Linked DNA regions of Homo sapiens: region 1 is linked to region 2. The links come from fine-mapping of genetic effects on gene expression. A gene starts in region 2. The other region holds a variant in brackets. All regions are shown on one strand. Distances are between the middles of the regions. Region 1 has its middle 20 kb from the start of MAPK3. Region 2 holds the start of MAPK3 (mitogen-activated protein kinase 3).

Region 1 (2,906 bases), 20 kb before region 2:
CAAGCCAGGGTATCTGGGGTACTCATCACCTTGAGTATTTCTCATTCCTATGGGTTGGGAGTAATTCAAGTTCTCTTCTAGTTACTTTGAAATATACAATTCATTGCAGCCAACTATAATCACCCTACTCTGCTATCAGATATTAAAACTTTTTTTTTTTTTTTTGAGACTGAGTGTTGCTCTGTGGCCCAGGCTGGAGTGCAGTGATCTTGGCTCAGTGCAACCTCTGCTTCCCAGGTTCAAGCAATTCTCTTGCCTCAGTCTCTGAAGTAGCAGGGATTATAGGCACCTGCCACCACGCCTGGCTAATTTTTTTTTTTTTCCAGTAGAGGTGGGGTTTCTCCATGTTGGCCATGCTGGTCTCGAACTCCTGGGCTGAAGCAATCCACCTGTGTTCGCCTCCCAATGTGCTAGGATTACAGGTGTGGGCCATCATGCCCAGCCTAATTCTGTTTTATAGTCAAATAGTATTCCATTCTGTATACATACCATAGTTGATTTATCCACTCCTCCATTGATAGATACTTAGGTTGATTCCATATCTTTGCTTTGTGGATAATGTGGATAATGATGTGGTAAGAATATGACAACTCTTTTTTTTTCCTTCAAGACAGGGTCTTGCTCTGTTACCCAGGCTGGAATGCAGTGGTGCAATCACAGCTCACTGTGGCCTTGAATTCCTAGGTTCAAGTGATCCTCCTGCCTTGGCCTCCCAAAGCACTGGGACTATAGGCATGTACCACCACACCTGGCTATTTTTTTAAATTTTATGTAGAGACAGTCTCACTCTGTTGCCCAGGCTGGTCTCTAACTCCTGGCCTCAAGCAATCCTCCTGCCTTAGCCTCCCAAAATTTTGTGATTACAGACATGAGCCACCATGCCTAACCAAGACAAGGTTTACTTTTAAAAAGTTAGAAGGGGCCAGGCACAGTGGCTCACGCTTATAATCCCAGCACCTTGGGAGGCCGAGGCGGGCAAATCACCTGAGGCCAGGAGTTCAAGACCAGCCTGGCCAACATGGTGAAACCCTGTCTCTACTAAAAAAAAAAAAAAAATTAGCCAGGCATGGTGGCAGGCGCCTGTAACCCCAGCTACTCGGGAGGCTGAGGCAGGAGAATCGCTTGAACCCAGGAGGCAGAGGTTGCAGTGAGCCAAGATCACACCATTGCACTCCAGCCTAGGTGACAAGAGTAAAACTCCACCTCAAAAAAAAAAAAAAGTTAAAAGGCATCAGGTTAAAGATAGTAGACTAAACACATGTATTTACTTCTGTTCTTGCCCCAAACATAATAAAATGGCAGTAAGAGAATCTTTCTAATGCCACACACCCACAGGAAGAGTAAGAATAGGAAAGAAGACAATACGAACAAAAATGTTTAAGCCAGGTACTAATAGAGGGACTCATGGTAACCAATTTACTAGAACCAAGGAAGTGGAATCGAGCTGGCATTGGAAAAAATGAGAAATTGCTAGGTTTTCTTTGCAGAAGCCACAAAAGACATAGAAATTGGCACCTTCAGGCAGGAATTGGAAGAATCTTCTGAAGGGACTGTGATCAAGCCAAGAGGAAAGTCCTGAAGACACTGACATCAGGAGCTCCCTGGGAAGCCACCAGCAAGGTCACCCCCTAGCACACAGTGCCACACAGTGGAGAGAGGTTTTTT[T/G]TTTGTTTGTTTGTTTGTTTTTGAGATTGGGTCTCACTCTGTCACCCAGGCTGCAGTGCAGTAGCACAATTACAGCTCACTGCAACCTCAAACTCGTGGGCTCGATCGTCCTCCCACCTCAGCCTTCCTGGTATCTGGGACTACAAGTGTGCACCACCGTGCCTGATTTATTTTTTTTCTTATTTTTTTTTGAGATGGAGACTTACTCTGTCGCCCCGGCTGAAGTGCAGAGGCACGATCTCAGCTCACTGCAACCTCTGCCTCCCTGTTCAAGTGATTCTCTTGCCTCAGCCTCCTGAGTAGTTGGGATTACAGGCATCCACCACCACGCCTGGCTAATTTTTGTATTTTTAATGGAGATGGGGTTTCACCATGTTGACCAGACAGATCTCGAACTCCTGACCTCATGACCCGCCCGCCTTGGCCTCCCAAAGTGCTGAGATTACAGGCGTGAGCCACCATGGTCAGCTTTATTTTTTTATTTTTTGTAGCGATGAGGTCTTGTTATGTTACCCAGGCTGGTCTTGAACTCCTGGACTCAAGAGATCCACCTGTCTTGGCCTCCCAAAGTGCTGGGATTGCAGGCATGAGCCACTGTGCCCTCAGCCTGGGGAACTTTTAAAAGGCTTTTAATAGCTCCAGCTTTAGTATGCACAGACCCCCAAGATTCACCACGTTTGAGGAAGGCATCCAATATAGAAGACAGGTTCGGGAGCGGTGGCTCACACCTGTAATCCCAGCACTTTGGGAGGCCGAGGCGGGCGGGTCATGAGGTCAGGAGTTCGAGACCAGCCTGGTCAACATGGTGAAACCCCGTCTCTACTAAATATACAAAAATTAGCCAGGCATATGGTGGCGGGCACCTGTAATCCCAGCTACTCAGGAGGCAAAGGCAGGAGAATCACTGGAACCCGGGAGGCGGAGGTTGCAGTGAGCTGAGATCTCGCCATTGCATTCCAGTCTGGGCAACAGAGCAAGACTGTCTCAAAATAATAATAATAATAATAAAGACAGAGGCTGAAAGGGTGAATGGATAAACAAACTGTGCTACCTACATACAGTGGAATATTATTCAGAATTTTTTTTAAAATAGGAAATTTTGATACATGCTACAACATGGCTGAACTTTGAGGACATTATACTATGTGAAATAACCCTGTCCCCAAAAGACATATACTGCATGATTCCACTTATGTGAGGTACCTGGAGTCAGAGTCATAGAGATAGAAAGTAGAGTGATG
Region 2 (2,906 bases):
TGAACTCCATAGTGTTTTCTCTGAGTCACTATATTCTCCCGCAGTTGCAAAATGATCTGGCAAAAGTCCCTCTAGGGTTTTTACTGCTTACTGAGTAACATCCAAACTCCTTGCCAGAATCCAGAGCCTTCCTAATCTGGCCCCAACCTACCTCTCCAGGCTGAAACCTCATCATTTTTTTACTGCAGCCATGCTGGACAAGTTATGCTTCTGCCTTTATGCCTCAGCTCACCCCGATCCTTCTCCTTCATGCCTTTCTTCAGTCCCTACCTTCTGCAACCCTACTTTTTCTCTTCTTCTTTTTGTTTTTTGTTTTTGAGACGGAGTGTTGCTCTGTCGCCCAGGCTGGAGTGAAGTGGTGCAATCTCAGCTCACTGCAACCTCCTCCTCTCGGGTTCAAGCGATTCTCCTGCCTCAGTCTCCCAAGTAGCTTGGATTACAGGCACGTGCCACCATGCCCAGCTAATTTTTGTATTTTTAGTAGAGACGGGGTTTCACCATGTTGGTCAGGCTGGTCTCAAACTCAGGTGATCTGCCCACCTCGGCCTCCCAAAGTGCTGGGATTACAGGCGTGAGCCACCGTGCCCAGCCCCCCAATTTTTTTTTTTAATTAGCAGGGCGTGGTGGCGCGCACTCGTAGTCCCAGCTCTTTGGGAGGCTGAGGTGGGAGGATCACTTGACCCCAGGGAGGTTGAGGCTGCAGTGAGCAATTATTGCACCACTACACTCCAGCCTGGACGACAGAGAGAGACCCTGTCTCTATAATAAAATAAAAACAGTCTAGGACTCTGAGAGGCATGGAATTAGAAAGAGTCTCTGTGTCAGAAGACACCATTTTGAGTCTCAGCTGTCACTACTAGTGACCTTACCCAAGTTAGTAAACCTAACTCTCAGATTCTCCATCTGTAAAATTTGATCCATTTATTAGAACATTATTTTTAACCTAGGGTGATCCCGGGCCCAGGTTCTGGTGGGCTGCCGCATACATTGGCTGGGTGGCTCTGGTAGGTCACGCCCTGGCCGCTTCGCCATCGAGGGGAGGGTGAGGACAGTCTCCGAGGCGGCGCTGCCGAACCTCCCGGTGACCTGGAGGCCGCGGAGCCCGCAGGGACCCATGGCCCCCGAACCTGGGGCAAGAAGGGCGGGCGCGCGCGGGGCGGGTCACGTGACAGCTCCAGGCCCACGCGGGGCCGGGGCAAGGGCGGGGCCTGGCGCGCGCGGCCCTGCGGGTGACAGGCAGGCGGGAAGGGGCGGGGCCTCGGGCGGGGCCGCCGTGGGGAGGAGGGCGGTGGGAGGGGAGGAGTGGAGATGGCGGCGGCGGCGGCTCAGGGGGGCGGGGGCGGGGAGCCCCGTAGAACCGAGGGGGTCGGCCCGGGGGTCCCGGGGGAGGTGGAGATGGTGAAGGGGCAGCCGTTCGACGTGGGCCCGCGCTACACGCAGTTGCAGTACATCGGCGAGGGCGCGTACGGCATGGTCAGGTGAGGGGGCGTTCCGGGGGAGGGGGTGCCCTCAGGGGAGGGGGCTTCGCGGGAGAGGAGGAGGAGGCGCCGAGCGCTTTCCGGGACGTGGAGACGCGGAGCGTCCCGAGGAGGCAGGAGACTCGGGATGATCGGGAGCGTCCCAGGGAGGGGGCCCCTGAGTGCTTTCTGGGGGAGGGGGCGCTGCCTACGTCCTCAGGGGAGCAGGCTTGGAGGCTTTGAGTCCACCCTTCTGTAATGATGGGAGGGGCATCCGAGTGCATGTGGGGGCCCGCGGGGACCCTAGTGACACGGGGCGAGGCCCAGAGGATGAGTACTCTCGGGGAGGCGACATCCTTAGTGAAGAGGCAGTGGAGGGCCCGTTTTGGGGGAAAGGGTGTCTTGGATTCCCCCTGTGAGGCAGTGCCAGGGAGCCTGGGGGAGAAGAGCCGAGATCAGGGTGGGGCAGGGCTTTGGCCCCACCACCCCAGGGGCCCAGAGAGAGATGAGGCGGCCAGGAGTGCCACCTGCATGTTTTGGGAGGGGTCTGTGAGTGCCCCCGGCCCCACCGTGTGCTCTGGGCCTCTATCCCTCTGGGACAGCCCCGCTGCCCGGATCCCTCACCCTGGGACCCTCCCCTGCCCTGTCCATTCTCTCCTGCCCCTCCCCTGGCTGCCACCTTCCCAGTATTTGCCCCATGGTGTGTCCCCAGCATCTGCACCCCCGGACCTGTCTTGGGTTAAGGAGCCTTTCCTGGGAATGGGGGCGAAGGGTTCAGGGCCAGTAGAATGGAAGGGGATTGAGGAGAGGGGAAGTCAGTGAGCGGTCAGTCTCTTCCTCTGTTTGTAAAGTCACCGAAGGGCCGCCTGGCTGGTCCCCAGCTTTCTCTCTGGAGATCCCAGGCCTCCACAGCAGGAAGGAACCAGCATTGTTTATGATTTGACCAGAGCCAGCTCCTGCTCTCTCCCCTCCCTGCCAAGGCCTGGGTGGGGCCACCAGGCCCGGACTCCCCCTTTGTAAGGCCACAGCAGCAGCCTCTCTCCGGTCCCCTCAGCTCGGCCTATGACCACGTGCGCAAGACTCGCGTGGCCATCAAGAAGATCAGCCCCTTCGAACATCAGACCTACTGCCAGCGCACGCTCCGGGAGATCCAGATCCTGCTGCGCTTCCGCCATGAGAATGTCATCGGCATCCGAGACATTCTGCGGGCGTCCACCCTGGAAGCCATGAGAGATGTGTATCCTTCACCTTGGCCAGTCGGCTGGTCAGGCACGGCCTCGCAGCTGGGCTGGGGACCCGTTGCTTGGTTTCTGTTTCCATCTTACCCACCACCCTCCAAAACAAACCCAGTAAAATAAACTTTCCTGCAGAGGGGAAGCCACAGTGTAACAGGACTTGGAGACCTCTGATGAACCCAGGCCTGCAGCGGCCCAGGCAGTATGGCCTCGA

The links.
Region 1: its variant is fine-mapped to the expression of MAPK3 in whole blood (TOPMed, PIP above 0.99).

The regions. Positions count from the first base shown.
Region 1 is chr16:30,141,985-30,144,890 of GRCh38, reverse strand. No RefSeq gene overlaps it. Among named protein-coding and RNA genes, the nearest start is that of MAPK3, 20 kb to the right of the region's middle. The variant T/G (reference allele first, on the strand shown) is at 1,666.
Region 2 is chr16:30,121,612-30,124,517 of GRCh38, reverse strand. MAPK3 (mitogen-activated protein kinase 3) reads left to right here and starts at 1,298. Exons shown (of 9, transcript NM_002746.3): 1 at 1,298-1,478; 2 at 2,512-2,694. The coding sequence starts at 1,309. RefSeq lists a silencer at 937-1,306.